Homo sapiens: one gene and its partners. The protein of the gene in region 1 purifies or fractionates together with the protein of each later gene. This does not show direct contact. Each region holds a gene or a part of one and is shown in the gene's direction. Other genes may lie near its edges. The genes, in order: ARHGEF15, FAM76B, RDX and ZNF326.

Region 1 (8,614 bases):
GCCACCGCGCCTGGCCTCAATCAAATACATTCAAATACATTTAAGAAATACAGGCCAGGCGCGGTGGCTCACGCCTGTAATCCCAGCACTTTGGGAGGCTGAGGTGGGCGGATCATCTGAGGTCAGAAGTTCGAGACCAGCCTGGCCAACATGGTGAAACTCCATCTCTACTAAAAATAATAGCAAAAATTAGCCGGACACAGTGGCACACGCCGGTAATCCCAGCTACTCGGGAGGCTAAGGCAGGAGAATTGCTTGAACCCGGGAGGTGGAGGTTGTAGTGAATCAAGATCATGCCACTGCACTCCAGCCTGGGCAACAGAAAGAGTATCAAAAAATAAAAAAATAAAAGGCTGGGCACGGTGGCTCATGTCTGTAATCCCAGTACTTTGGGAGGCCGAGGCAGGCAGATCACTTGAGGTCAGGAGTTCAAGACCAACCTGGCCAACGTGGTGAAACTCTATCTCTACTAAAAGTACAAAAATTAGCCGGACGTGGTGGCGCATGCCTGTAATCCTAGCTGCTTAGAAGGTTGAGGTAAGACAATTGCTTGAACCCAAGAGGCAGAGGTTGCAGTGAGCCGAAATCCTGCCACTGCATTCCAGCCTGGGCAACACAGACTTCGTCTCAGAAAAAAAAAAAAGAAAAAAAAAAGAGGAGTAGTGAACTGTGGGAAGGATTCAATTCAATTTGGTTCAATTCATCAACTATTGAGCACCTATTATGTGCCTGATCCTCTTCCAGAACTTTGGGATATACAGTGTGAAAGGAAAATGAATCTTGGGGCCCCCAAATCACTAAGCTAAAGAAAAAGTCAAGCTGGGAACTGCTTAGGGCAAACTGCCTCCCATTCTACTCAAAGTCATCCCTCTGCTCACTGAGATAAATGCATATCTGGAGCCGGGGCGCAGTGGCTCACGCCTGTAATCCCATCACTTTGGGAGGCCGAGGCGGGCAGATCACGAGGTCAGGAGATCGAAACCATCCTGGTCAACATGGTGAAACCCCGTCTCTACTAAAAATACAAAAATTAGCTGGGCGTGGTCGTGGGCACCTATAGTCCCAGCTACTCGGGAGGCTGAGGCAGGAGAATCACTTGAACCCGGGAGGCGGAGGTTGCAGTGAGCCAAGATCACACCACTGCACTCCAGCCTGGGTGACAGAGTGAGACTTTGTCAAAAAAAAAAAAAAAGCATATCTGATTGCCTCCTTTGGAAAGGCTAATCAGAAACTGAAAAGAATGCAACAGTTTGTCTCTCACCTACCTGTGACCTGGAAGCCCTCTCCGTGCTTGAGTTGTCCCGCCTTTCCAGACTAAACCAATGTACGTCTTACTTATATCGATTGAGGTCTTATGTCTCCCTAAAATGTATAAAACCAACCAAGCTGTGCCCTAACCACCTTGGACACATGTCATCAAGATCTCCTGAAGCTGTGTCACAGGTGTGTGCTCTCAACCTTGGCAAAATAAATTTTTTTTTTTTTTGAGATGGAGTCTCACTCTGTCGTGCCCAGGCTGGTGTGCAGTGGTGTGATCCTGGCTCACTGCAACCTCTGCCTCCCGGGTTCAAGTGATTCTTCTGCCTCAGCCTCCTGAGTAGCAGGGATTATAGGCATGCACCACCATGCGCGGCTAATATTTTGTATTTTTAGTAGAATCAGATTTTCACCCTGTTGGCCAGGCTGGTCTCGAACTCCTGACCTCGGTGATCTGCCCACCTTGCCTGGCTAAACTGCCTACTTTTGTATTGTGTTACCTGATTTATTGACTAAAATAGTTATTGCAACAGAGGCTACTCTTGCTTTTTTTCTTTTTCCTTTTCATTTTTTTTTTTGAGATGGAATCTCTGTCACCTAGGCTGGAGTGCAGTGGCCCGATCTCGGCCCACTGCAACCTCCGCCTCCCGGGTTCAAGCAATTCTCCTGCCTCAGCCTCCAAAGTAGCTGGGATTACAGGCGCCTGCCACCACGCCCAGCTAATTTTTGTATTTTTAGCAGAGATGGGGTTTCACCATATTGGCCAGGCTGGTTTTGAACCCCTGACTTCAGGTGATCCACCCACCTCGGCCTCCAAAAGTGTTGGGATTACAGGTGTGAGCCACCATGCCAGGCCAAAAACAATTTTTTAAAATTAAGTTTATTACATCCATGTATTTTTCTGTATGTGCTTTTAAAGTCCTTGTGACACTGAGTTACAGGGCTTTGATTCTTGGGTCTAAAAAGGACACCAATTCTGCTAAATCTTAAAAACTAACATCAATTAAAGCCTCATCTTCAGGCCCAGTAGAAGATGCCAATCAAAATAACTGTATTGCCGAGACACACGGCCACAAATTAAAGCTGTTAAACTCCTCAAGGCCCAGGGACTATTGCAGAAGAGGTGGGCATGTGAGATGGTAAGGGTTGATTTTGAGAAATAAAATAAATTCAGTTTCTCTATAAATTAACCATTAATGTCAAAGACACACTGATGCAAGACCAGCATATGGGCCCCTGTGTCAGATTCACAAGGTTTTCTTGGAGCATTAACTGACTCCTTAATAAAGGTTATAAAGGTTATACAAAGGTTATGGAAGTTACATCTTATGGTCAAGATTAAAATGTTATAGACTATTTATAAAATTTTTGGGGCCAGGTGTGGTGGCTCACGCCTGTAATCCCAGCACTTTGGGAGGCCGAGTCGGGCATATCACGAGGTCAGGAGTTCGAGACCAGCCTGGCCAACATGGGGAAACCCTGCCTCTACTAAAAAATACAAAAAATTAGCCGGGCATGGTGGCAGATGCCTGTAATCCCAGCTATTCGGGAGACTGAGGTAGAAGAATCACTTGAACCTAGGAGGCGGAGGTTGCAGTGAGCAGAGATCGCACCACTGCACTCCAGCCTAGGCAACAGAGCAAGACTCCGTCTCAAAAAAAAAATTTTTTTTTGGAAAAAATTTAATTGGCTTCATGCTGTTTTTATTGGGGCTTATTGTTTGGAAAATTAAGTCTCTTCTGGGATTACAGGGGAGTGCCACCATGCCTGGCTAATTTTTTTTTTTTTTTTGAGATGGAGTTTCACTCTTGTTGCCCAGGCTGGAGTGCAATGGCACGATCTCAGCTCACTGCAACCTCCGCCTCCTGGGCTCAAGTGATTCTTGTGCCTCAGACTCCTGAGTAGCTGGGATTACAGGCGAGTGCCACCATGCCCGGCTAATTTTTTTTTTTTTTTTGAGATGGAGTTTCACTCTTGTTGCCCAGGCTGGAGTGCAATGGCACGATCTCAGCTCACTGCAACTGCCACCTCCTGGGTTCAAGTGATTCTCTCTCCTCAGCCTCCAGAGCAGCTGGGATTACAGGTGCCCGCCACCATGCCCAGCTAATTTTTGTATTTTTTTTTTTTAGTAGAGATGGGGTTTCACCATGTTGGCCAGGCTGGTCTCAAACTTCTGGCCTCAGATGATCCACCCTCCTTGGCCTCCCAATCTGCTAGGATTATAGGCGTGAGCCACGGCTCCTGGGACATTTTTTATTTTTATTTTTTTTGAGATGGAGTCTTGCTCTGTTGCCTAGGCTGGAGTGCAGTGGCAGGATCTTGGCTCATTGCAACCTCCACCTCCTGGGTTCAAGTGATTCTCCTGCTTCACCCTCCCGAGTAGGTGGTAGTACAGGCGTGCGCCACCACACCCGGCTAATTTTTTTGTATTTTTAGTAGAGACAGGGTTTCACCATGTTGGCCAGGCTGGTCTCAAACTCCTGACCTCAGGTGATCCTCCTGCCTCGGCCTCCCAAAGTGCTGGGATTACAGGCATGAGCCACTGCGCCCGACCTCTGCACATTTTTTATTGTTTTCAGACAGCATATTGCTCTGTTGCCCAGGCTGGAGGGCAGTGGTGCGATCACGGCTCACTGTAGTGTCCAACTCCTGGGCTCAAGTAATCTTCCCACCTCAGCCTCCTGAGTAGCTGGGACCACAGATGTGTGCCATTATGGCTTTTTTTTTTCTTTTGAGATGGAATTTCGCTCTTGTTGGCCAAGCTGAAGTGCAATGGCGCGATCTCGGCTCACTGCAACCTCTGCCTCCTGGGTTCAAGCAATTCTCCTGCCTCAGCCTCCCGACTAGCTGGGATTACAGGCGTGTGCCACCATGCTTGGCTAATTTTTTGTATTTTTAATAGAAACGGGGTTTCACTATGTTAGTCAGGCTGGTCTCGAACTCCTGACCTCAGGTGATCCGCCTGCCTCGGCCCCCCTAAGTGCTGGGATTACAGATGTGAGCCACCTCGCCCGGCCTGTCCACGGCTAATTTTTTAAAAATCTTTTGTAGAGACAGGGTCACACTATGTTGCCGAGGCTGGTCCTCCCACCTTGCCCTCCCAAAGTGCTGGAGTGCTGGGATTATAAGGATGAGCAACCACGCCTGGGCCCCTGCAAATGTTATACCTCCCTGGAGGAGACAGACCCCAAGTCCACACTTCTCTCTTCAGTCCTACCTCCTGGCCCTCCCCTTTTCTCTCTCCTCTAACACACACACACACACACACACACACACACACACACACACACACGCCAGACACAATGGCTGGGTGGGGCTGAGGAACTGGCTTCCTCCGCAGAGATCTCAATCTGGGCCCTGAGTTCCCACCCCAGAATCACAGGAACACACACTTGGAAACCTCAGCCCTGCATTCCTCGCTCCAAGGGGCAGACAGGACAGGCTGAAAATAGCAACTGGTTCCAAAAAGATAAAGGTAAATTCATGGGGACCTACTGCAGAGTTAGGGAGGGAAGCCTGCGGGAGGGTCCCTGGGTGTGAAATAGGCGTTGGCTCACACCCGGCTCAGGAGACAGGTGGTGGTGCAAGTCGGGGAAAGATGGTGAGACTCGCCGTGGAGGGACGCACGCAGCATCCCTTAGCTGAGACAGAGGCATCCAGACACCCATGCTGCTCAGCCAGGCTCTGTGCCATTGCCGTCTTGTCCTCATCCCTACCCCTGTCCACCTCACCCCTATGAGCCCCGATCCACACAGCTGTGCAGGTAGAACCTGCGCACACACTTTCCAAGCCTGAATTTCAGCTTTTCCCCAGACCCCTTTAACCTCTGAGACCCTGGATACCTCTGTCTCCTGGGGCCCTGTGTGATGTGCGCATGTGGAGAGTGGTGTGGTTCGTGAGGGGGGGGTGTCCGGTTGGGAGGCGGATCTGATTCCTGTTTCCTGCCCCTACTCACTCAGCCCTGGGAGGTGACTGAGAGTGGAGGGGATTCAAGGGTGAGTGCTTGGGGCCCGAGTACCTGGGTTCCTAAGGGTGGGGTAGGGAAGGAAGTAAATGCAGGTACCCGAGAGGGGGTGGGATCCCTGAGGGGCAGGGGCTGGGGAGGAGTTGGCCAGTGGTCAAGACTACCGTGTGGGTCACTTTGCTAAATGACTTTCTGCCAGAACACAGAGGCCACTGAGCTGCAAGACCCATCATCTACAACCCCCTTGTTCCCCCCTCATCATTTCTCAAGGAGCCAGTCCGAGGCCTGGAGGGGTCTGACTCTCCTGCTGACCCCTGAAGGGAGTTTGGGGGTTCCTCTGCTTCCCAGCCCTGACCCTGCAGCCTTCTTGGGATTGTAGCCTCCTTCCTCGAGGGAGGAAGAGAAACCCAGGCCGCAGCGCCCTGGCCCGACTGGTCCTGTCCTTCGGTTCATTCTCCCAGCCACCTCCCCAGGCCTCTTGGCAAGACCCATGGCTGTGCTGGGCCTCTCTCTGTGACCAGACCCTAGGGCAGGCGGGGATGATCAGACGCAGGACAGGAGAGACCTCGCCAGGACCTCCTCATCTCCGGGGGTCAGAGGCTCCAAGAATCTTGATGGCAGGAAAAGGAGACTAAAAATAATCCGGAAAGGGAGAGTCCGGAGAGAGGAACTGGGAAATGGGGGGCGGAGGGCCAGTGGAGCAGGGAAACAGTGATGCACGCCTCGCAGCCCAGGCCCGGCGGACAGGCGCGCCCACGGCACCCAGACCCAGACAGCGCAGAACACACATGGCACACCCACCCTGGCACCGCTATCTCAGACACTCACACCGAGAACTTCCTAAAGGGCCACACACCACACACCGTATGCTCCACTCTCCCCCTGCACACCCACCCGGCAAGCACAGAACTCGCACACTCACAACACACCATGCCACCCCCTACACAAACCACACACAAACCTCCACAACACACTCCACGGACACACGGTTCAGTGGGCAGACACGGAGCGGCTGTATCCCGTATTGAGTTTTATGGATTCTCTGGAACCCCCACACCAGCCTTCCCTCCTGACTTCAAAATCCTGCCTTCCAGTGGCCCCAGTTTACCCTCCCTGTGGGGCACTAAGGGTCTTTCTCTTTCCCTCCCTCCTCCTCAGGGGATGACTCCAGCAGAGCACCTCACTCCTTTGAAGAGCACAGAGGAAGATGTCAGCCCAGTCCCTTCCTGCAGCAACACCCCCCACGCAGAAGCCCCCTCGGATCATCCGCCCCCGCCCTCCTTCTCGTTCCAGGGCTGCCCAGTCCCCAGGGCCTCCCCACAATGGCTCCTCTCCACAAGAACTACCCCGAAACTCCAATGATGCACCAACCCCAATGTGCACCCCCATCTTCTGGGAGCCCCCAGCTGCATCCCTCAAGCCCCCTGCTCTTTTGCCCCCCTCAGCTTCTAGAGCCAGCCTCGACTCCCAGACTTCCCCAGACTCACCTTCCAGCACCCCCACACCTAGTCCAGTGTCCCGGCGCTCCGCCTCCCCAGAACCTGCTCCCCGGTCTCCAGTCCCCCCACCCAAGCCGTCTGGGTCACCCTGCACGCCTCTGCTCCCCATGGCTGGAGTCCTGGCTCAGAATGGCTCTGCCTCAGCTCCTGGCACTGTGCGGAGGCTGGCTGGCAGGTTTGAAGGGGGTGCTGAAGGCCGGGCTCAGGATGCAGATGCCCCGGAGCCAGGTCTCCAAGCGAGAGCAGATGTGAATGGGGAGAGAGAAGCTCCCCTCACCGGGAGTGGGTCCCAGGAGAACGGTGCTCCAGGTGAGTGTGGCGGGTGGGGGGCGCTGGGTGACCTCAATCCACCCATCTTCTCCGTTTTCAGTGCTAACAACTTTCAGGGGCTACCTTTTCAAAAATGGAGTTAATGTTTGGGATATCTGGTTTCTGTATGTCGGGATTTGAAGGGAGTCAGGGTGGAGGAGATCTATAGATGCCTGGACCTTGATATTGCAGTTGCTGGGCAGGTTAAAGATGGAGATGGTCTGGGCGGGGGTGGAGCTGGGCCCCAAGGGCTTTCTCCTTAGGCTACCTGTCTCCCACAGATGCTGGCCTGGCCTGCCCTCCCTGCTGCCCCTGTGTCTGCCACACCACCCGGCCTGGCCTGGAGCTCAGATGGGTGCCTGTGGGGGGCTATGAGGAGGTCCCCAGGGTCCCCCGTCGGGCCTCCCCGCTGCGGACCTCTCGCTCCCGCCCCCACCCTCCAAGCATCGGTCACCCTGCCGTTGTCCTCACATCCTACCGCTCCACTGCTGAGCGCAAACTCCTGCCACTCCTCAAGCCTCCCAAACCAACTCGTGTCAGGCAGGATGCCACCATTTTCGGGGACCCCCCACAGCCAGATCTTGATCTGCTTTCTGAAGATGGAATCCAAACAGGTGCAGGGCCTGGGGGAGTGGACCTCTGGGCTGTGAGGGGACAGGAGAGAGGCAGGGGGGAACTAAAGCCCAGCAAACTACAATCCCCAACAGGCACTGGGCTCTTTGCTTCCCCACCAGCTGCTGCTCTGGTGCTGAAGAGAGTTGCAGTTTTTATAGTAACCATCCCTGCTGGGGCTGGAGTCGGGAGTCCTGGCTGGGGATCCTGGAGTTTTTTTTTCTCTTCACTCTGGCTTCTCTCTCCAGGGGACAGTCCTGATGAAGCTCCTCAGAATACTCCTCCAGCAACTGTGGAGGGGAGGTACTGAACACCCCCACCCCTACTCCCTGGTTCTCTCCCCACCATGCTTCTACCTGAGGGCAGACTAACCTTCAGCTCCAGCTAAATCCCACCTCCACAAAGGTGAGGGGACAAGGGCCAGGGCTCTAGAGATAAGCAGCCCTTGTTTCGAATCCCAGCTCTGGCCCTTATCAATTCTGTGATCTTATAGAAGGCCGGGCACGGTGGCTTACATCTGTAATCCCAGCACTCTGGGAGGCCGCGGCAGAAGGATCACCTGAAGTCAGGAGTTCAAGATCAGCCTGGCTAACGTGGTGAAACCCTGTCTCTACTAAAAATACAAAAATTAGCCGGGCATGGTGACGGGTGCCTGTAATCCCAGCTACTCGGGAGGCTGAGGCAGGAGAATGGCTTGGACCCAGGGAGATGGAGGTTGCAGGGAGCCAAGAGCGTGCCACTGCACTCCAGCCTGGTCGACAAGAGAGAAACTCCATCTCAAAAAAAAAAAAAATCTGTAGCCTTCCTGGGTCTCAGTGTCCTCATCTGTGAAATGGGGCTAAGCATAGGAACCACCTCATGGAATCGTGGGGATATGATATTGTGAAGAGCCGGGTCCAGAGTAAGTGAGTGCACCATTTTAACTCCCTTCCCTCACCTTGAGCTTCTATTGCAATTATTGTCCGAAAATCTA
Region 2 (7,979 bases), on another chromosome or scaffold:
TATGGATGGAATACATGTGAACAAACAGAAGATAAAAACTTGGTTTTATTTTTAGAGGTTTAGTCAGTACTTCTGGAAAGTCTCTTCTTTGACACAGGTACGATTGATTCTCATTATTTGTGGTAGTTCTTTAAAGTTCCCACAAAACAGTGAATACGGTAGTACCCACCTTATCCATGGGAGATACCTTCTAAGACCAGTGGATGCCTGAAACTGGGGATAGTAACGAACCTTACTGTGTTTTCTCCTGTACATACGTGCCTATGATAAAGTGTAGTTTTTAAATTAGGTATAACAGGAGACTAATAAAAATAATAACAAAATAGAACAATTATATTAGCATACCCTAGTTACAGTTATATGAATGTGGTCTTTATCCCTTAGAATAGTGTATTGTATGTAATATTTTTAGACTAAGGTTGACTATGGGTAACTAAAACTGTAGATAGGGGAGTACTGTATTGAAGCATTGCCCAAGAGAAATATAGGATTAAGTTCACATTTCCAGTAATAACATGTTGGTCAGTTGATCAATATATAACCTTATTTTGTTTGTGTTCCTGTTTGAAGATATCTCATTTAATGTATACTGTCGATTGGCCAGGCATGGTGGCTCATGCTTGTAATCCCAGCACTTTGGGAGGCTGAGGTGGGTGGATCATAAGGTTAGGAGATCGAGACCATCCTGGCTAACACGGTGAAACCCCGTTTCTACTAAAAATACAAAAAATTAGCTGGGCATGGTGGCAGGCACCTATAGTCCCAGCTACTCAGGAGGCTGAGGCAGGAGAATGGCGTGAACCCGGGAGGCGGAGCTTGCAGTGAGCCAAGATTGCGCCACTGCACTCCAGCCTGGGCGACAGAGACTCCGTCTCAAAAAAAAAAAAAAAATTGTGTGTGTGTGTGTGTGTGTATATATACACACACACACTGTCGATTAATTTAATTGCACTCATGGCCAACAGTGCTAAGAGTGCCTGAACATAACTTATGTAACACACATATTTTCTCTTTAAGACACATCACAGCCTTCGTAGCTTTCCTTTTTTTAAGTTCAGGGGTACATGTGCACGTTTATTATATAGGTAAACTTGTGTCATGGAGGTTTGTTGCACAGATTATTTCATCACCCAGGTATTAACCCTAATACCTATTAGTTATTTTTCCTGATTCTTTCCCTCTTCTACCCTCCACCATCTGATAGGCCCTAATGTGTGTTGTTCCCCTCAGTGTGTCCATGTGTTTTCATCCTTTAGTTCCTGCTTATAAGTAAGAACATGCAGGATTTGGTTTTCTGTTCTTTTGTCAGTTTGCTAAGGTTAATGGCCTCCAGCTCCATCCATATTCCTGGAAGGGACATGATCTTGTTCTTGTCTATAGCTGCATAGTATTCCATGGTATATACGTACCATGTTTTCTTTATCCAGTCTACTAACGATGGGCATTTAGGTTGATTCCATGTCTTTGCCATTTCACATTACAACCTTCTTGAGCCTAGGAACACTATACAGCACTTTGGCAGTACTCTTTGGGACTATAAAAACTTGAAAAACATGGCACTAAACAGACTGTGAAAAGGATACTTGTCTGAGAGGTGAAATAAATGAGGCAGAGCATCACCTTGTTCCACCTCAGCTGAGAATGTGTGCTATTGGGTGGCACAGATTTTTCACCACTCTTGTGTATGTGTGCAGTGGCCACAAAAGTGCTACAAGTCTTGATTTTTGGGTTACAGATACATTTTACTAGGTAGGCAAATACACGAATAGGAAATGCAAGAATAATGAGAAGCAACTCTGTGTGTCATTTAGATGCTTCTGTTTTTCTGTAAATTTACAGTACTTACTGTAGTGAAAAATTATTAGTAATGACACAGCGATATAAGAATTCAGGCTATATTTCTTGGAAGTATATCAGTCAGTTTATGCTTATTCTCCTGGAATAAGAAAAAAGGTAACATTTTCTTTTTCTTCAAATTAAAAATGCTTCAAAACTGATGTCATCCTCATCAGTTTTATAATTCTCCTAACAAGTATTTTCTCAAGTTTCAGAAAAGTCCAGTTTTATTTCTGTTTTGCAGAAAATCCGTGAATATGTGCATACATGCATTTGTGCATGTTACGTGTGGAATATAGGTGGAAGTTGAGTGGTTTATCTTACCTGGTTTCGTTTACAGCCAGTTTATATGGGTACATTTAATTTAACACATTTTCTTAAAAGGTTGATGGAAAGTTATTATGCTGGCTCTGTACTTTATCGTACAAAAGAGTTTTACAGAAGACGAAAGAACAAAGGAAGAGCCTGGGATCTTCACATTCAAATTCATCTTCTTCATCTCTTACTGAGAAAGACCAGCATCATCCAAAACATCATCACCACCATCATCACCATCACCATCGTCACAGCAGTAGCCATCACAAGTAAGTACTTTGAAATCATATTTTCTAAAACTCTTCCTTGCATTTTAATGCCATTTATTGATGTTTACTTCTTGCAAATATTGACTATGTGCTAGTCTAGTTTCCATTGTACACAGTAAGCATCTTGAGTGTCTAAGGCTGTGTCTCCATTTTATTCAGTGTAGAATGTTATATACATGAAATATGTTGAGCTGTTTACCATAATACAGATATTTAGGAAAATCTATAAAATTATAACCATGTAAAGTCAAAATACAAGTACGTCAGTTAATTAACACTTAAATAACTTATCAAAAGCCTCAGTATTCTTTTTTTGTTTAAATAATTGTTAAGGTTTTATTTGAAAAATTATATTTTAGTTGTCAATTTGTTTTAGTAAAAACAAATCGAAACAAACCAATGACTGGGTTTGGAGAACATATTTTAATACTATAATTTGTTACTATGATAGAAGCATTTCTGATCTTTGTGGTCCCCAAAATATGAGCAATATTTTTAACTAATGATACTTTGTGTTTTTTTCAAACATATATTTAGGAACTCTACTTAAATAGAGACAACTGTAGTTTTCCCTCAGTATGCTTGAGGGATTGGTTCTAGAACCCCCTCATAGACCAAAATTTGCATATACTCCAGTTCTGCAATTGACCCTGTGGAACCTGCCTATAGGAAAAGTTGGCCTTCTATATATGCAGGTTTCACATCCTCCAAATACTGTATTTTTGATCCGTATTTGGTTGGGAAAAAAAAATTCTCCTATAGGTGGTCCCATACATTTCAAACCTGGGTTGTTCAAGGGTCAGCTGTACTTGATTTTTAAAGTGACCTGTGGGGGGAGTTATGTAGTAGTAGTAGTACCTTAACCCTTGATGTGTGTGGTATAAAGATTTTTTAAAATGCAATTTTAGTCTTCACGGAAAAATCAAGAACATGAAAATACAAATTAAACTGACAAACACAAATTAAAATGGAAAAAACGGACATATGGCATGCCCATTTTCAGAATAATTTATTGTTTGTTCTTAAATTTTTCTGTGAGTCTTTAAAGTTTCAGATAGTTATTTAAAACAGAATTTACAAACAACTGATGCCCACCTCATTTTGGAACACATGCAGTATTTTTAGAATGTAATGTAGTTCTGTCTAATTAGTAAGATTTGTTGTAAACTGTATCCAATCACCTATTAGATTATGAGGTTACGTTGAGGTTAGTGATGTTTAATTCTACCATGTTGTAGTGTTTTCTAAATGTGGCAGTGGTAGACTACAATGCAGTGTCTTCTCTTCTGGCTGTTTTGAAGAAACCTTGTGATCTTTATATCAGAGTATTTCAAGAAGCAAAATAATATAAGTCTACCTTGTTTTTGCTTCTTGCTTTAAGAAAAAATATGACAAAATGACTATATACCATAATAGCATATGTCAGACCTACTTCTAAGACTCCCAAAATGTCTCCTTTCCCTATTCTTTACAGATAAATTTGTCTTAGCATGATGTAAAAGGACACAATCAGATTATGTTTGTGAAGACTAAAGTATGTGACAGCAACTTAATTTTTTGAAAGAATGACAGGTTTCAAAAATAAAGGGAAAGAGAACAGTATTGAAAATGAAAGTCTTCAATTTTTTTACTTCTGGTTACTTATGAAATACAAACACTATTTTCTATTTGATGGCTGTTGACCATTTGATGAACAGTTACTTTGTAGGGTCCTATCTTAAGTTCAATAGATCAGAATGAAAATGAGGAGCATTCATATTGTGATAGATAGTGATCGGCAGGGGTAGGGGATGTGGTTGCCAGGTGGCACTAAGGTGGGTCTGAATCTAGGAATGGACAACCCTCAGAAAGATAAGATGGGAATTCCAAGTGTTTCTGTCAGTGATATTAATGTGATTATTCTTAACTTTGAGATATGGTTAGTGCTGTTAGTTCATGTATGGCTTGTTAGGCTTATAATGAAATTTGTGGGAAAAAAAAAAAAGGGACAACTGCATTCCTCAATAGGATTTCCATTCATTCACAAGTAAGAATAACTCACTTGATGGAATTATTGCTATTAACATTTTTTTCCCAACTTGGTACTTGTTTACAGCTGAGTCTTAAGGTTTGTTTTTTTCTTTTGCTTAAAAAACTTCTACAGCTGAACCAATAGTAAATTTTAGACACAAGTAAACATGTATATATATATATGTCTATTTTGTATATGCTAGCACTGTACTAAGTGATTTTACATATATAACTCATTTAATGCTCATATCAGTATAAGGTATGTATTACATATGAGGGAACTAAGGCTGGGGATGTTAAGTAATTTGCATAAGGTCACAGCTCAGGTATTCTAACATCTTCTAAATCGTATAAATACGTGGCATCTGGTTCATAGGAGATGCTCTCTACATGCTGAGTGAATAAGCTAGGGTTAGTGAAGCATTGACTGATATGCAAGTTTAGGAGGAAAAAAATGAAGGATTCATGATGAATTATAAAGTGATTATTAGTATTAGGGTAAAATAGAAAAGGAGTATTACAGTATTAATTATGAGTAAAAGTAAAATAATTTGTTACTATGAAATTTCTCAATAGTTTCAGCGTAACTTCTCCAGAATACTAACTAAAGAGAGCTCTATGGACTTTGGAGAGGATTCTTAAGAAAACTAGGAAAGAATCAAAGAAATCAATATATTTCCCCATTTAAATTGAAATACTATTCTGAGCAACTTGAGTTACTCCAAAAGAAGAATCTCTACTTCAGATTATTAGGAAAGCCTTAACTTTAAAGATACAAATTTTGTGTCTGAAATAGTAAGGGCAGCCAAAGTACAGTGATACCTAGACACAAGCACGAAAACTACTTGTGTAACCCACCCTTTGTATGATATTAAATTGAACTGTGGAGATCCTGATTATAAAGAATTCTTGAAGAACTTGAGATGGTTAGCAGTCATTTTATTAAAATTTATTTCATCAGAATGTGATTTATTCAATATGTATTAGCTTAGTCTGAAAACTTAAATATACCTTTCTCTGAAGAAAATATTATAAACATAAAATTTGTATCCATTGAGAAAGAATGTTAAATTTAGATGTATTAAATAAATAAATGTCATTATTAGATGTCATTTGTGTATTTTTCAGAATCAGCAATCTAAGTCCAGAAGAAGAGCAGGGACTGTGGAAACAGAGGTAAATACATTGCTGTATTTTCTGAAGTATTTTGAAATGTATATTTATAAATGTGATATCCCTTCAACTTTGTTACTTAAGTCTTACCAAAATCAGTATTTTCAGTAATATTTTAGGGGAAGATGAATAACTTATCATTTGGTTTCTCTGTCCTTTTTACTCTAACTATTCTTATTAATGTTTGGTTTCAGCCATAAATCCTCTGCAACAATTCAGAATGAAACTCCAAAGAAAAAGCCCAAATTGGAATCTAAGCCATCTAATGGAGATAGGTAAAAATGAATTCTTTTAGTGTTATGAAAATTCAACTTAGTTGAATAGTTATGGTTGAATGCCAGTTATTACTAGATAAAAAAATAGAAACATGTATTTTCTACATTGACTTGAGTCACCTAGAAGAATAAACATAAATTAGTTTAAAATTTTTAGCTTAATTTTGGCAATAAGAAAGTGGCACTGAACTATGTTGTTCTATTTGGGAAATAAATTTGGGTTTTGAAGAAACAAATTTGAATGGAGAACATTATTTTTATCTTTATTCTTCAGTGAAACACAAATCTAATTGTGATATTTTAAATTGACCTGCTTAGAAAATGTTTTTAGATTAAAAATATTATGAGCGTTACTTTGTTTTAGTTCATTAGCCAAAAGTTTGCTGATGTTACTGTACAAATTGGCTGCCTATTGCTTTACACTAGAAGTATTGACCCCCTTAAAGCTAATACTGAATTATATTTCTGCAGGTGTATGTAATGTGTGCCATTAGTAAGGTAATTTGCCAGTTGCATCCATTTCTGTCAGGTACATATTTTTTTGCATTAGCCTTAAGGATGTTTGTGGAATTGTCTAATTTATGCAATTTGAACACCTGCTAATTTTCCTTCTACTTCATTTAACTGTGTTTTACTTTTTTCTTTTTAGTAGCTCTATAAATCAGTCAGCAGATAGTGGGGGAACAGACAATTTTGTCCTTATAAGTCAATTGAAAGAAGAAGTGATGTCACTTAAGCGTCTCTTACAGCAGAGAGACCAGACCATTTTAGAAAAAGATAAAAAGGTAAGAACATGGTTCATTGAAGCCTGGTAAGAGTTATGTGTTGACTGTTGCTTGATAATCGCAAATTTTATTAGACTTCCTTTAATAATTTGGTAATGTTTGTTGTGCGTGATTTTTATAAGACAAATTACAAAAGCCCCTGAAGCCATCTAATGAAGATGGGTAAAAATGGTCTTTCAGATTTTTAGTTCTAAGAATTAACTGAGGCTTAATTAGGATAGTAATTTCCAAACTTTAATTTTCAGTAAGCATGTAATTTAAAAATAGATCTAATACCTAATTAAAAATGAGATGTAAATGGAATATTTCATAAACTTTTTTGATTTAAGAATGTAGTTTGAACAGTCTTTGATATAACATTCATATATTTGTATCAATCCAGTCATATATTTGTATCAATCCAGATCAAAATACTGCTGAAAAGTAATGGTATGGGAATTTCCTGTAGTAGTCAGTAATAGTAATTAGCAATAGATGTCTAAAAGCTCATTGTGTAGGAAGTAAGTGTACTTATTGGGACTTCATCAGTTAAATGAAGAGGAATATTAAAATGTGTTGTTCATTTAGTGAAAAGAGGAATATTAACAGAATTACAGAAGGATTTAAGGTCTTGTGCTATGAAATCAGGATGGCACAATAGTGGACAGGCATGGAACAGGAAACAGTTTTGAAGTAATTTAGCCATACTTAGATTCAAATCCTAGTTCTAACATTTTCTGTGTGACCTAAAGCAGAATGTGTGCTTCTTTGGACCTCAGTTTTCTCATTTAAATGAGAGCATTAATATTATCTGAAGTGATGGTTTTGATGATTAATGAAAATGCAAAGTATTTATTATAGCTCCTGGTATGTATAAGTGCCCATAGGGGCTATTACTGTTTGATCATCTTTTGTACTTGTTTTATGGTCCCAGACAATGTAGTTTGACCTGTATCAAATGTATTATGCAGTAGGAGAACACTAAAATCATTTCTTTTAAAAGAATAAGGCCTTAATATGAATACATATATGACTTATATCCATCTCTAAGTCTGTGCTGAGTTGGCTTTTACTTCTGGCATTCAGTAATTTTTGATACATTTTGCCACACCTTGATGGTTAGTGGGCTTAATTTATTTTAATACATTTGTAGCTTACTTTAAGCAAATTTAGTATATGAAAATTAGGAGTGACATATAAAATAGGATAGTTACGGGTGTCTTTGTCTTATGGTTCTTTTTGATTGACAGCATTTTTTAAATTAATGAGCCTTTATGGAAATTTGTCCTGTGTACAAAGTTTTAGAGACAGGCCAGATATATCTGCATTAGCCTTGA
Region 3 (7,979 bases), on another chromosome or scaffold:
CTCAGTATCTAAGTACAGTCTGGGGAGGAAATGAGTAATTAGGTTATTTGGTGATAACAAATCAAATAAAATAATTTAGTGATTCTGATACATTCTGATTTCTTGTATTGAAAAACCCAGATGAGCAATCTGTTCTTACTGTAGAAAAGTTTAGCTCTTGTGGTATAGATAATTAGCTCCACCAGATAGTATTGCTTCCCTTTGAAAAGAGCTAAATATACATAAACTTTTACATACCAGGTTTCTGACTTGGGCGGCTGGGTATTTGGTAATACCTTTTATCAAAATGAGTGGAAGAAAAAATACATTTGAGGGGGAAGATGAATTCAGTTTTGAACCTATTGAGTTTGAAATATGTGCAATATAACCAAGAGAGATATCTGGTATTTATTTGCATATGTGGGTGCAGACCTTTTAGAAACAGTCTTGGACTATAGATACAGTTTTGGGAGTAATCAGTGAATAGATGGTAATTAAACCATGAGAATGAAAGAGATCAACCTACCAAGTACATAAAAATGAGAAAAAGACCTAGGACAGATCTTGTTGGACCTCAGCTTTTGTCTTTGGGTTCTGCATTCACAGAGTCAACCAACCACAGATTGAAAATATGTGAAAAAAATAACACAGCAATGAAAAGGTACAAAATTTTAAAAATACAGGATAACAATACATAGCATTTGTAGTGTATTAGTGTATTATTATACTACATAGTAGTAATAATATAGTGTATTAGTATTATTAGCCTAGAGATGATTGAAAGTATACAAGAGGATGTGCATAGGTTATATGCAAATATTGCACCATTTTATATCAGGGACTTGAGCATCCACAGTTTTTGGTATCCAAGGGGAGTCCTGGAAGCAATCCTTTATGGATATGGAGGGACAACTGTACTGAGACACTGGCCACAGATTCAAGAATAATTCTATACTAGAAGATGGCTGGGCATGGTGGCACATGCTTGTAATCCCAGCTACTCGGGAATCTGAGACCTGAGAATCACTGGAACCCGGGAGGCGGAGGTTGCAGTGAGCCAAGATGGCGCCACTGCACTCCAGCCTGGGCGACAGAGCGAGACTCCATCTCAGAAAACAAGAATAATACCAGAAGAGTATTATATCATGGAAGCCAAGGTAAAAGAATACTTTGATGAAGAGAATGGTCAGCACTGCCAAATGGTACCAAGAGGTCAAATATGAGGAGAACTAAAGTATCTGTTGGAATAAGGAGCTTGGTAGTGACCTTAGAAGAGCAGTTTCCAGCCGGGTGTGGTGGCTCACACCTGTAATCCCAGCACTTTGGGAGGCCGAGGTGGGCGGATCACCTGAGGCTGGGAGTTCAAGACCAGGCTGACCAACATGGAGAAACCCCGTCTCTACTAAAAATACAAAATTAGCCGGGCGTGGTGGTGCATGCCTGTAATCCTAGCTACTGGAGAGGCTCAGGCAGGAGAATCGCTTGAACCCGGGAGGTGGAGTTTGCAGTGAGCCGAGATCATGCCATTGCACTCCAGCCTAGGCAACAAGAGCGAAACTCTGTCTAAAGAAAAAAAAAAAAAGAAGAACAGTTACCATAGAGTATTGGGTGTTTGAGCCAGATTATGGTAGACTGGGGGCAGTGGATGTCAGGTATGGAAATTGAGGTTAGTGTATAATGGACAGTCCATAAAAGAAAGTTGTCTCTGAAAAAGAAAAAAAAATAGGGGTTGGGAAAAATTGATTAATTCATTTATTCACTCTACAAATTTTCGAGGCCCTCTTTAGTACTGGCATTGGGCATATAATTATGGTAAGCAATTGACTGCACTGGGTTATGTCTCCAAGGCTGATTGCATGCCTCTCTGTGAGCCCAGAGGCCAGACAGCAAGAAAGACAAGAAACTGTGGAAACCTAAGCTCTCTCAGAAGGAAGATGAAACTCTTCTCCCCAAAAGCAAGAGCTTGGAAAAGATGCCTAGAGAAAGGAGCAGAGTATAATAAGAACATAACAGTATGTCTGAGACCCCTTTAAGGAATTTACTCTAAGTAGTAGGTAACTTATCCAGGGGGAGATTTTATCATTCCTTTATGCTGCCAAGAAATCCTTGGGTTTCATGCAAGATTTTTTATATAGTAAAACAGTAATATTTTAACACCACAGCTTCTGCTGTCAGTAAAGTAGGATCTGGTAAATAAAGGTGAATAATTATCATATGAGCCAAAGAGAATAGAAGTCACAAACTGTAGTGTGCATAGTAGGTAACTTATAATCATGTTGACTTTGCTGATTTGGTGTTAAAATAGTAGTAGTAGAATATAATGTTTGTATTTGGCTGGGCGTGGTAGCTCACGCCTGTAATCCCAGCACTTTGGGAGGTCGAGGCAGGTGGATCACTTGAGGTCAGGAGTTCAAGACCAACCTGGCCAACATGGCGAAACCCCGTCTCTACTAAAAATACCAAAAAAACACACAAAAAAGAAAAATTAGCCAGGCATTATGGCGCACGCCTGTAATCCCAGCTACGCGGGAGGCCGAGAGCATCGTGGCACACACCTATAATCCCAGCTACTTGGGAGGTTGAGACAGGAGAATCACTTGAACCCAGGAAGCAGAGGTTGCAGTGAACCGAGATTGTGCCACTGCACTCCAGCCTGGGCAACAGAGCGAGACTCCATCTCAAAAAAAAAAAAAAAAAAAAAAGAATGTATTTGCTCACATTTGAATTAAGAACACTGGAAGGATACAAAAACAAGTTATTTGGGGGGTATTGGACTGGAGTATGACTTTTCACTCTACTTTTTAATTGAAAGTATTACCTACCTAAAACAACAAAATTAGTAGCAAAAAAGTAAATACATAAAGGAAGAATTAGGGCCCAAGAATTCTGGTTTTCAGTCTGGTCTTTATCTATTAACAATGAGCCATTTTTTTATCTAATGTTTTATTCCTTTGAACTGTTTGGGTTCCTATAAGCTATCTTTGTAATCACTTTATGGAGCAAGTATTATTTCAAGGAATTTAAGGATCCTAGACACTTAACTTTGAGATAATTACTGATTATTATGCAGTTGTAAAAAAAAGAGATCCCTGGTATCCTTCTCCCAGCATTCCCTGATGGTAACATCTTGTGTAACTACAGTACAATATTACAAACAAGATATTGACATTGGTACAATCTAGCCACCTTATTCAGATTACATCAGTTTTACCTGCACTCATTTCTGTGTGTATGTAATTTAGTTCTATGCAATTTCATCATGTGTATTAATTGTCTGACAACTACCACAGTCAAGTTACTGAAAGGATTCTTTACTTTTAAAGTGTATGCTTTTGAATCTTAAAGTCATTATAATTTTTTTTTTTTTTTGGTCCTCTTAGTGTATTGGAACAACACAAACTAACAAAAGAACAGTGGGAAGAAAGAATACAGAACTGGCATGAAGAACATAGAGGAATGTTAAGGTATTTGGGTAGCTATTTTCTATGTTTTCTTTTTTCCTTCAAAGTATTTTCATGTCGTAACATTTATTATTACATTATTTCCAAAAGATTGTTTGACTTATGTAAAGTACTAATTTTTAATTCCAGGTATTTTGCAACTTTAGTTTGATATGCTCCTACTTAAATATATTACATTTAGTTTTATTTCAACAGGGAGGATTCTATGATGGAATACCTGAAGATTGCACAAGATCTAGAAATGTATGGAGTCAACTATTTTGAAATAAAAAATAAAAAAGGAACTGAATTGTGGCTAGGTGTTGATGCTTTGGGTCTGAATATTTATGAGCATGACGACAAGTAAGTAAATTAGTTGCATAGTGAACTAGTCATTGTTCAGTGGTCTAAATGACGTTAATCTTATGTCCTGTTTTTCAAAGTAGTTTCTTGTCTTGATTACCCTTACTATTTTCAAACTAAAAGATGAATTAATGACACATAGACTTGTAGATATTTTACCTCCATTTTCTTATCACCTTGCAGTTTCAGAGTTCTACTTTTCAGTGTATTTATCAAATGAGATGATTGACTTTTATTTGAATTGTGCTGCTTTTAGCTCTTGTGAGTTATGTCTAGTAACTTAATTAAAATTTGCTCCCTCGATAGGTGAGAAATAATTCTTTAAAATGCTATTATGCTTGACAAATAGATTGAAATTGAACATACATAAGAAATCAGGAGCAATGAGAGAATGGATTTAATAAATATGTCTATCACATCTTAGAGGATTTTTTTGAACATTTATATATAGGAATTGTTTTAAATATGTTTGGACATTAATACAATAGAATATCCCTGTATTACACATATTGAACACTGTAATTATATCTTGAAATTGACCAAATAGTTTTTTATTATACATATATAATTCATCAATATTTTATTATATGTATAATATATGTATATTTACATATACATGTATATGTACTATACAAATACATGGGTAAATACTATATAGAGACGGTATATTATACACATACACATGCAATATAAAATACATCAGACTCTTACTTTTCAGGATTAATAACTCAATTGTCTTAGACTTTAATTTATTTACCATACCACATAAGCATGCAAGTCTATGCCAGTAATTAATGCCTTTTCCTAAGGCATTATTCTTTATTCTAGGTTGGCTCCAGAATTTTAATTTTTATTACTACAGATATCTAATAAAATACTAATTTCAAAGCATATGTGATTCCAAACAAGAGCATTTTACTATTTTTACCCTAATATCTTCTCATGTTTTTATTACAAAGCAAGTTAGAAGGTTATATCATTTAGAAGAGAAATTTTTGAAAAGCAAAAATGACTTCAAGACTAATTTTTGTAAACTGAATCTTTTTCTTTTGTTTTAGAGAATGGGATCTTGCTATGTTGCCCAGGCTGGTCTTGAACTCCTGGCCTCTAGCAATTCTTGCGCCTCTGCTTTCTCCAGTGCTGAGATTACAGGCGTGAGCCACTGTGCCTGGCTTCTTAATTTTTTTGGTGGTGGTGGTTCTGGCACATATTGGAGCAATTTTTTTAAATGTTAAAAAAGTTATTGTATTAGCTTCCAGGCTTACCTCACAAGAGTGTTATGAGAATTATATGAGGCAATTGCTTTAGAATTTTTCAAAGTAGCATATAAACGTAGCATAGTGTTCTCTAAAATACTATGTTGCATTCCTGCAGTCTCCGTTTTAAGCATGTTACTTTGACTTATATCAGGGGCCATTAGAGGGTCCTCTAATATGCTTATTGAGTAAAGAATGTTTTATGTAGAAAAGACTCTGCTGTGCTGCAGTACCTACTCTGCTTGAGAACTAAAAGGAATATAAATAGGTAAAAATTCATGCTGTGTTGTCAGAAGCCTGGCTAAAAGATGTCTTCTGGCCAGTATAGGTGTCAAAATCATTTCTCAGTCTTAGTTATTAGGACAATAGGACAATAGTGATGCATTTGATAGGTAGTCTGAAACAGTAAAATACATGAAAAGGCAGAAACAAAATCACTTATTCCAATATGATTCCCTATATCTTTGTGTGTAGGGTGGTAAAACGGAGTCAACTGCTGTGTATAGTCTCAAGAGTTTGAATTCCATCTCTATCATTTATCCAAATATTTATGTATGTGAGTGTTTAAAATTTTTGAGATATAATTCATATACCATAAGATTCTTTCAAAATATACTGAAAATTAAGTATTTTTAGTATATTCGTGAATATCCAGACATTTTCAAATTAAACACAGGAAGGAAGTACTGTTTTTTTATTTGCAGTAACTTGCCCGTAATTCACATGAGAAGTTATAAAGGCCTTTTTTTTTCTTCCCACTTCTTACACATATTTAAACTGTAGTTGTAGCTTGAATCCAAACAATAAAAACTGAACAGCTAGTTCAAACCCCAGGAGGCTCAGTTCTACACTTGGGTCACCAGGTAGTTTTTTTAGATAATTTTAGGAAAATACACTGCTTTTAAGGTTCATGACACATTTATGAAATCTTTGGACAGTTGTTTGTTTTATATGATTTATCAGTTTTCCCCTTAAAAGATAAGGTCAACTGTAGTTATGAATAAGTTAATACATTTTGAAAATCTGGAACTCTTAAGATTGGTCATTCAGTCAGTTTAGGTCCTAAACAGGAATTTTATTCATTGTTTCCTGCCTTTAATTAAGGAGATGCTTTCATTTTTTAAGGTTAACACCTAAAATTGGTTTTCCCTGGAGTGAAATCAGAAATATTTCATTTAATGACAAAAAATTTGTTATAAAGCCAATCGACAAAAAGGCACCTGTAAGTAATTTCTTTAATATTTTGTGTATTAACTGTTTAATATCTGCTAGTTTCCCATGATATCACTTGAAGAATAACAGTGTTCATTTATTAAATTGCTTCTGAGGACCATTCTCTTTCCATAGGTCAGCTTTCCCAGTGATGAAATAATATGTTAATAAAAATCCAAAGATTTAATTTTTTAAAGTAAGATGTAAATATTAGAATTTTATTTTATTTGAGATTCAGTTATAAATAGATAATATTTATTAGGAGGCTAATGAAAACACCATTCCTAAGAAGCAATTTTAAAGTGTTTCTTCATTGGTGGCTAGAATGTAGTAGAGGTAGCCCTATTCTAAATTAACTTCGTTTATACAGTTTTGCTTTATGAACTTTGTATTTTTGTAACTTGAAGCCTTGAACTTAAGAAATCTTTTTATTTAAATAGATTTTTAAAGTTCCTCTAATGTCAAGTATACTCTAGTATCCTAACCCTGTTAGTTACTGAAAAGGTAAAAGTAAGAAGAACAGGCTGGGTGCAATGGTTCAGGACCATAATCCCAGCACTTTGGGAGGCTCGAGAGGAGCAGATCACCTGAGATGAGGAGTTCAAGACCAGCCTGGCCAACGTGGTGAAACTTCATCTCTACTGAAAATACAAATATTAGTCAGATGTGGTGGTGCATGCCTGTAATCCCAGCTACTAGGGAGGCTGAGACATGAGAATTTCTTGAACCCGGGAGGCAGAGGTTGGAGTGCACTGAGATGGCACCACTGCACTCCAGCCTGGATGACAGCAAGACTCCGTCTCAAAAAAAAAAAAGAACAATTCTAGGTTAAAAAAAACTCTACAGCCATGAACGAAGAACCAATTTTGACATTAATGGCAAATGGTGTATAAGGAACAGGTGCTCATAGTTACTTTCGAGAACAAAAAGGAATAAATGACATTTAATGTATTGCAAGGATAAGAATATTAGCCTCTTTACAAAACTGGTTGGATATGAAAAGGTGAGGAACCAGTTATGTGAAAGTATGTCATGCTCACTGGGAGTTATGAAATTGTATGATTTCTTATTTCTAAACTATATGTAATATGACATTAAAATTCATACCTCATGTTAAAATTTAGTACAGATTGTTATGAGAGACAGTATCCTTGAGGAAGATTTTAAATTCAGAATACTTTATGTTTAGGATTTTGTGTTTTATGCACCTCGTCTGAGAATCAATAAGCGGATTTTGGCCTTATGTATGGGAAACCATGAACTATACATGCGAAGAAGGAAGCCTGATACTATTGAAGTACAACAGATGAAGGCTCAGGCTAGGGAGGAGAAACATCAGAAGCAGTTGGAAAGGTATGGGGTTTATGACCTTTCACTTTTAATTGATAGGAGTAGGCTATCTAAAATTTAAGACTGCTCAGTTTTTTAAATGTACCTTAAATTTGTATTTATTAATATTTTCATTATATTAAAATTCAAAGACAGTATTATCACTCTGTCCTTTAAAACGAGTATGTATAATTTTCAAGTTAGAAATCTTTGACACATATCTCGAAGAAAATAGCTTTTTGTGACTCATTTCTTGCTTTTCACTGATAGACATTGTTTTAGATATAGTAGTTTGAAACTTTCAAAATTGTTTTGCTTGTGACTTATATTTCTTAATTTTTTCAGGGTAAGAATGTGCTGAATATTTAACTTTGAAACAATGTCAGTGACATTGTAGAAC
Region 4 (7,979 bases), on another chromosome or scaffold:
ACTGAATGATGCTTACTTTCCTTCTTTCTGCTTCCAGTGTACCACTATGGTTTATAGTAAAGAAAAATTAAGAAAGTGAACAGTTGCAACTATTTTGCTTATGTGATAGATGTTTTGAAAAATGTAGTTGGAAATAGGAATAATTTTTATATGGTTACTAGGATTCAGAAGTAAATCTATTTAGTGATCTGTAAATAATTGAAGTAATGTAACACTTAATGTTTTAATATGTCAGTTATTGCCCTTTTATATTGTGAATGTAATGTGCATAAGCTATATCCGTAGATGTTATTGTTTTATCTCATGTGTAATTGTGGGCCTTTATAAAATTGTGTTGTAAGATATCAAGCAACTTTTGTAATCCATGCTTTGGGTTTGTGAGAAGGAAGATGATTTATTTCTTCTGTTAACTCTCTTAAAACCTCGAGGAGACTGTGTGCTCCCTTTTTTAGGGTAGTTTTATGTGATAATTTCCTGAAGGAAATAATTTTGCAAATAATTGAATATATTATAAGATGTATTCTTTCTCATCTGCCTTGAAAATTCATATGCAGAGGGTATATGTTGGTGATCTTTTATGTTTTATCTGTTTATCCTTCTAGATTTGTTAGATTTTCTAGTCTACAAGTAAAAAGTGATTGAGGATTGATTAATTGACCTTGGCTGAAGTTTGGCAGATTGTTAAATTTTTATAACCAGAGATAATTCCCCAAATTTTGACTCCTACAGACACAATGAAGCAGTTTGTGATATAGATTATTGGGAGTGCAAAAGGATCTCTCTGTGTCACAAATAACCTACATCTAAGTAGACTTCAATTTGTGTCCCTATTGAAAGCCAAAATATTGTAAATGTTTTGTAATTTTTAATATTAGGGATAGATTCAAAAAAGTTTGAATAGTTTGTGAACTTTAGCAAATGACCTTTTCCAAGACTAGGGCTGGGCTTAAATAATGACAGACAAATCTTTTCTTCTTCATAAAATAGAAAAGCTGCTAAGAAGCAGATTTTAAAGCTAAGTTTTACTAAACTCAATTCATATTTATAATCTGACTCAGATAGCTTTCTATCTGGTCTCACGTTGAACTGCCCAGCCCTAATCAAATGTGAACAAAAGTAGAACTGTGCAAACCAGTATGGTATAAATGAATTTTAGTTGATAAATGTCATCTGATAATTTGTCTTTTGAATTGTCTAACATTAGTAAGCTTACTTTTGTTTTTTCCCTCACTGTGCAACTTTTCCAGGTTTGGACCTTATGAGTCTTACGACTCCAGGTCTTCTCTGGGTGGGCGAGATCTGTACAGATCTGGCTATGGTTTTAATGAACCCGAACAAAGCCGCTTCGGAGGTAGTTATGGTGGTCGATTTGAGAGCTCCTACCGGAATAGCCTTGACTCTTTCGGAGGTAGAAACCAGGGCGGGTCTAGCTGGGAAGCACCTTACTCCCGTTCAAAATTGAGGCCTGGGTTTATGGAGGACAGAGGAAGAGAGAATTACTCTTCCTACAGCAGTTTTTCTTCACCCCATATGAAGCCTGCACCTGTAGGCTCTCGGGGGAGAGGAACGCCTGCTTATCCTGAAAGTACGTTTGGAAGCAGAAACTATGATGCTTTTGGAGGACCATCAACAGGCAGAGGCCGAGGCCGAGGAGTAAGTACAACAGAATCTTTTCAGATTCTTTTCACTAGTCACTCTTTTAAACCCTTTCAAGACCATCGTTTTCAACTAGAATAAACACTGTTCATCCCGGTGTATTTTGAAGCAAAAGCTGAGTCATAAACATAATTTTTAGGTTGACTGTAAAAGTTTTTCTAGCACCTCAGAAAATAAGTGGCAGTTTGAGATGATCATAAAGTTGTGCCAAATCTCCCTTTATTAAAAAGGTGAGGCTACTGGTTTGGTCTAAAAGGGGTTAAAAGGAGTTGCATTTTCCTTGTAAACACTAGCAGTTTTGCTGGTGGAATAGTTTGTGGATTATTGTGAAAGGTCACTGAACCCTTTTTGAGTTTTTGAGTAGGTTAAAGGTGCAATGTATGATAAAATGTTTATACTTTGTGGCTAAACTCTAGCAAGTAGAATTTCTTCAAAGCTCCATGTTTCACATTAAACACAGGAGACTAAAAGTTGATGATAGATCAGGATAGCTTAGCCATGTTTATGTGGTGAAGAAGTTGATGTGTATAATAGATTGTACAATGATTTGTGGTCAGTGTAATTTTGCTAACTCACGCTTACAATATGTCCAGTTGCTGGTTGTTTTATTTTCCCTCGTGTTACTAGTTTTACTCTTGAGAAATAATTTCCACCTGTACAGATATGTTTATGGTTTCTTCTTAGGAAGTAATATTTTGTAAATTATTGCTTAAATGAGTAAATATACTAGTCCACAGTTGTTTAAGTTTAGGGTACATAGTGTAAACATTATGCTTTATGTTCTTAGGTCACTTGATTGACATGAAAATTTACCTAGTAAGTGTATGCAGATTGTGGGGTTATTATATAGTTTGATCATTTAAAGAGTATTGTATTTTTGTTATAATGTAAGAATCCTTTTAAGTCAGCTGCTCTTAATATTTTATTTGCAGAGGAAAGTATTTCTAGTAAAAAAGGTAGTAGGGTACACGTTTTTGACTGGTTATTAGCTTTTGATATGTCAGTGTAGCTTGTTATACTTGTGTAGAAATTTTGCATTTTTAACAGTTACTCTTTACTTATGTAAAAATGCATTGCACCTTTAATGCGTAATTAAGGAAGATTTTCCTGTTGTGACTTTTTAAATTACCTGGAAACACAACTAGGTTAGATAGGCATTCCTGAGCATAGTATACAAATGTAAGCAACTGATACATTACAGTTCCACTATACTTCATGATCATAGGTTAATTGAAAATAGTTGGGATGATAGGCTTTGGGTTTTGAATTGAAAATCCATTCTAGTTTGAAAATTTGGAAAACACTTAATATTTTCCATGCTGTATATTATTTTAGACAAAGTGTGTTTTCTTAATGAGGCTTCAAAAGTAAATTTCGTTTTCATAATAAACAAGTATTCCTGTACTTTGTATTTACCATTCTAGTCTGAATGGACTTTTCTTTCTTTCCTCCTGTTAGTGAAGTAGATGAGCCAATAGGACCTACATTTTAAATCTTCACTTGTACAATTCCCCTTGGGTCCTTCTCTTCAGATTACTCCTCCATCTTTATCTTCTAAAAGTAAGATTAGCAGAATAAATTTCTGTGGACATGTGGCCTCTTGGTGTAGTAGATTTGGATAATGACAAGAGAAGAGGAAGGGACACAAAGAGTCGTTTGGTTGCATGACTCTTCATCTGTAAACTTTTGTTTCTTGGGCTTCTGGGTCAGAAAATGTTTCTCTAGGTAAGAATGTGAATGGAACGTCAGATGCAATTCTTTATCTGAAGTGTGTCTTGGAAGTTGATGCATGGTTATGCTTTAACTCTCCTATTTCATACTAATGTTCCATCTCGCCTTCTCATTCCCTTTTTCAACAGGGAGAATACTAAATGATTTCTGGATCTTTTTTACTTCAAACTACAAATATGGTCTTCTTTGTGTATCTTAGTTTTAGTAAAATAAAGATTTCTTTTAGGGTCTTTTCATGGGAAAACATCAATTAGGAACTCTGAAGAGGAGTTGTCAGAGAGTTGTACAAGTGGTAACATTTGGACAGGCACATATGTTGTCTATAATCTCAAGTAATTTTGAAATGTAAAAGTAAAAACATAGTTAGCAAATATTCATTATTTGTTCTACTGGAAATAAAAATACTAATTCAATGGATTTGAGTTTATGTAATAATTTACAGAGTTTTTCAATGTGTTTTTTCAGAATGGACATGTAAAATTTAGTTACATTCCAGGGAATTTTCAGGTGAAAATTAGTAGATAGTTAACATGAAAATTTTATATGAATTCATATTTTTTCTTGGACAATATGCTAATATTTATTGATTTCACAAATTTACAGCATATGGGTGATTTTGGAAGCATTCATAGACCCGGAATTGTTGTTGACTATCAAAACAAATCCACCAATGTGACAGTTGCTGCTGCAAGAGGAATAAAGAGAAAAATGATGCAGCCATTTAATAAGCCCAGTGGAACCTTTATCAAGAAACCCAAACTAGCAAAACCTATGGAGAAGATAAGCCTCAGCAAATCACCCAGTAAGTAAGAAAACATAATTGCTATGATTCAGGATACTTTTTATTTTTTAAAATTCCATACTTTTTGGTAATTTTTTCATGTTTATATACAGAAACTACATAACAATTATGATTGTAGAAGTTAGATCTGTAAATCCCCTATTGCAGTTAATAATTGGTCATGAATACCCAAAGATACTTTTAAAATGTACATAACCTGGTCCATTCCTTTTTCCTGAATCCTTGTGGTTGTGTATCAAACCCTCTACAGCTGAGAAAACAGGCACAGAATAGATAAATAATTTGCTGCCTAAGTCAAACAACCAGTGAATGGTAATGCCAGTATTTATTCCAGAGCAAGTCATGCTCTAGAAGTCCTGTTCTTAAACCTCCATATGATTGTAACAGAAATTTGCTTTGTATTCATTTTTCCCTTTTATTTTAAAATAACTTTTTCCCTAATTATGACATTATAGACATTTTAATATGTAATATTTGAAAAAACTGAAATTGCAATGTTAGATTCTTTCCTCAAAATATATTTTCTATAATATAAAATTTGAAAAAGGTTTAAAAGGTGTACTTAAATTACTTTCTCATCAGGCCTTATTGTTTAATAAGAAACAATATTCTGGAATTTCTGGAGTTCTGGAAACCTGATACTAAGCAGAGTATGTGTTGTGGGGATACCTTTAACAGTGTGTCAATTGATAGACTGTTATGTATCAAATTTGACATTTTATTAGACATTACTATAATAGAAAATTCAGTTGATTCTCTTGGGACCTATTTCAAAGATATATTTTGCACGTATGGTTAAATATTGCAAAAGTTTGATAAAGAAACTGATTTGCCCTTAAAGCAGATATATATGTATCCCTCCCCCATACCCCCTTTTTATATAACAAAACTTGAGAAAAGTGTTGTGTAGCTAAGAATGAAACTAAAATTCTTTAAATTATGCCTTCTCTGTCAGGTGTAAAATGGGCATTTAAAAAGATGATTGCTGAATTTTCCTCAATACAAGGTCTTGCTATGCTATAGTATAGACTATGTGACTTTATAGAAAATTAGTAGGAAAGGAACCCTATTCTGTCACTTGGCTAGAAGTACAACATGTCATAGTTTTAGCATATGAAAGGAAGATTAAATTACTTATTTGAGGTAATATATAAATAAGTAGATTTTTCAAAGGCCATCCAAAAGGATAAGCAGTGCATAAAAGGAAAAATTTAAGGGCAAATAGTTAAGTTTTTTTTTTTTTTTTTTTTTTAAGTATAAAGTTAAATGTATTATAAGAAAGAACCTGCTCACAGTGAGTTACCACTCCATACCCACTTGGATGGTCATAATAAAAAAAGGAAAATAACAAATGTTGACAAGGATATGGAGAAATTGAAACCCTCACACATTACTGATGGGAATGTAAAGCAGTGAAGCCACTGTGGGAAGCAGATTGGTGCTTCCTGAAACAATTAAACATAGACTGTCCATATGATCCAGCAATTCCACTTCTAGGTATTCTTCTATTCCAAAGAATTTAAAGTAGTATTCCAACAAAAATTTATTTATTTATTTATTTTTATTTTTGAGACAGGATCTTACTCTGTTGCCCAGGCTGGAGTGCAGTGGTGCAGTCTTGGCTCACTGCAACCTCTGCCCCTGGGTTCAAGCGATTCTCGTTCCTCAGCCTCCTGAGTAGCTGGGACTACAGATGTGCACCACCACGCCCAGCTAATTGTTGTATCTTGAGTAGAGATGGTTTCGCCATGTTGGCCAGGCTGTCTTGAACCCCTGGCCTCAAGTGATCCATCCGCCTCAGCCTTCCAAAGTGCTAAGATTACAGGCATGAGCCACTGTGCCTGGTCCAAACAAAAATTTATATATGAATGTTTATAGTAGCATTATTCATAATTGCCAAAAGGTAGAAACAATTGAAATATACATCAACAGAAGAATGGTTTAAAAAATGTGGGTTATTCATACAATGGAATATTATTAAACCATAAAAAAGGAAGTACTTACTAATACATGGTACAACATGGGTGAACTGTGAAAACATGCTAAATAAAAGTCAGACCAAAAAGGCAACAGACAGGATGATTCTAGGTATATGAAATACTTAGAATAGGCAAATCCGTAGATCAGAAAGCAGATTAGTGGTTACCAGGGCCTTAGGGTAGGGTTGAAATGGGGAGTGACTGCTTTATGGGATGATGAACAGTTCTGTAACTAGATAGTGGAGATGGTTGCGTAACTTTGTGAATGTACTTAATGCCATTGAATTGCACATTTTAAAATGGTTAAACTAGTAAATCTTATGTTTTGTGTATTTTATCACAATAGAGAATATTTTTTAAAAAAGAGAACAAATTTGCTTTTATTTTGGAGGTTACAAATTTTAAGAAACTTTCTGAGAGCTCCTACAATATGAACATGAGTTCTTGCATCCAGGGCTCTGCAGTGTTTACTGGACTTCCATTTTCATGCTCGGTCAGGTTACTTTAGTGTTTTTCCCAAAGTATGTGATGCCCAAGATGATTTTAGGTGATAAGGATATTATTGCTTAGAATAAGGATAGGACAAATGAGCACATTTAAAGAAAAATATGTAGCAAATAATCACATAGATGACAAGCAGATATGACAGAATTCATGATGATGGTATTCAAATGAATGAAGTTCATTTAGTGAAGTTTCAGAAATACTGGATAGTCTCAAACTCCGATTTTTTTGGTGAGTTCAATTTTAGATTACAATCACTAAGTATACCTCATAAGTATGTACTTTACGAACTGATGATTGGAAAGAGAGAATGGAAAAATGAATTTTAGCTTTTACTTTTTTGTGTAATATCCTAGCAAAAACTGATCCTAAAAATGAAGAGGAAGAAAAGCGGCGAATTGAGGCTCGGCGAGAGAAACAAAGGCGCAGAAGAGAAAAAAACAGTGAGAAATACGGAGATGGATACAGGTTTGTACTTAGAGTCAGAAAATTAGGTTCATTAAAAAATGATTTCCTAGAAAAAGCCAACACATCAATTGTAATATTAAAAAGTTCTTAAGATTCAAATGAAAAGACTTGTTCAAAGATACAGAGGAATGCTTTTGGTTTTTGATATTTATATGTAATCACTACTTAGAAAACATAAGAAAAAAGGCATTCTATTCATATTGGCAATCCAAAAGATATCAAATATTCAGAAATAACAGTATTCTTAAAAAGAAACACTTGTCATTGAGATTTGACTGTATGGAGTCATAGTGATTTTCATGGGCAGGAATTAAATATTACAAATATGTAAGTTCTTTCCAATCCAGATCCCAAAGGAAATTCTGAAGAAGAGTAAATGAGTAGGTACTGGCTTTTATAGATAATCAATCATTAAAAAGCTATAATAGTTAAAAATATGTGGTAATACACAAAGCTAATTATTATACCAGATTAGCCTGTGAACAGACTGTAAGGAAGAATGTAATATTTAATAAAGAGGATATTAGAAATAAGAGGGGAATTGGGCTAGGCACAGTGGCTCATGCCTGTAATCCCAGCACTTTGGGAGGCCGAGGCGGGCAGATCACGAGGTCAGGAGATCAAGACCATCCTGGCTAACACGGTGAAACCCCGTCTCTACTAAAAAAATACAAAAAAAAATTAGCCAGGTGTGGTGGGTGCCTGTAGTCCCAGCTACTCGGGAGGCTGAGGCGGGACGATGGCGTGAACCCGGGAGTCGGAGCTTGCAGTGAGATGAGATTGAGCCACTGCACTCCAGCCTGGGCAACAGAGCGAGACTCTGTCTCAAAAAAAAAAAG

The links.
Region 2: the proteins of ARHGEF15 (region 1) and FAM76B purify together in Homo sapiens (affinity purification with mass spectrometry, with the first as the bait; one large-scale study listed by BioGRID). This does not show direct contact.
Region 3: the proteins of ARHGEF15 (region 1) and RDX purify together in Homo sapiens (affinity purification with mass spectrometry, with the first as the bait; one large-scale study listed by BioGRID). This does not show direct contact.
Region 4: the proteins of ARHGEF15 (region 1) and ZNF326 purify together in Homo sapiens (affinity purification with mass spectrometry, with the first as the bait; one large-scale study listed by BioGRID). This does not show direct contact.

What each region holds. Positions count from the first base shown.
Region 1 is NC_000017.11:8,305,612-8,314,225, forward strand, and holds the start of ARHGEF15 (rho guanine nucleotide exchange factor 15), read left to right. Parts: upstream 1-4,629; 5' UTR 4,630-4,732; intron 4,733-5,210; exon of another isoform or gene 5,211-5,252; intron 5,253-6,379; 5' UTR 6,380-6,428; coding exon 6,429-7,029; intron 7,030-7,310; coding exon 7,311-7,643; intron 7,644-7,889; coding exon 7,890-7,944; intron 7,945-8,406; exon of another isoform or gene 8,407-8,542; intron 8,543-8,614. UniProt on the Homo sapiens protein: Specific GEF for RhoA activation. Does not activate RAC1 or CDC42. Regulates vascular smooth muscle contractility. Negatively regulates excitatory synapse development by suppressing the synapse-promoting activity of EPHB2.
Region 2 is NC_000011.10:95,777,506-95,785,484, reverse strand, and holds part of FAM76B (protein FAM76B), read left to right. Parts: intron 1-2,220; coding exon 2,221-2,420; intron 2,421-5,536; coding exon of another isoform or gene 5,537-5,558; coding exon 5,559-5,606; intron 5,607-5,797; coding exon 5,798-5,878; intron 5,879-6,349; coding exon of another isoform or gene 6,350-6,359; exon of another isoform or gene 6,360-6,407; intron 6,408-6,527; coding exon 6,528-6,663; intron 6,664-7,979. UniProt on the Homo sapiens protein: Negatively regulates the NF-kappa-B-mediated inflammatory pathway by preventing the translocation of HNRNPA2B1 from the nucleus to the cytoplasm.
Region 3 is NC_000011.10:110,253,570-110,261,548, reverse strand, and holds part of RDX (radixin), read left to right. Parts: intron 1-3,359; coding exon 3,360-3,443; intron 3,444-3,635; coding exon 3,636-3,782; intron 3,783-6,142; coding exon of another isoform or gene 6,143-6,163; coding exon 6,164-6,260; intron 6,261-7,439; coding exon 7,440-7,603; intron 7,604-7,979. UniProt on the Homo sapiens protein: Probably plays a crucial role in the binding of the barbed end of actin filaments to the plasma membrane.
Region 4 is NC_000001.11:90,006,098-90,014,076, forward strand, and holds part of ZNF326 (DBIRD complex subunit ZNF326), read left to right. Parts: exon of another isoform or gene 1-348; intron 349-1,247; coding exon 1,248-1,653; intron 1,654-3,990; coding exon 3,991-4,189; intron 4,190-7,028; coding exon 7,029-7,140; intron 7,141-7,979. UniProt on the Homo sapiens protein: Core component of the DBIRD complex, a multiprotein complex that acts at the interface between core mRNP particles and RNA polymerase II (RNAPII) and integrates transcript elongation with the regulation of alternative splicing: the DBIRD complex affects local transcript elongation rates and alternative splicing of a large set of exons embedded in (A + T)-rich DNA regions.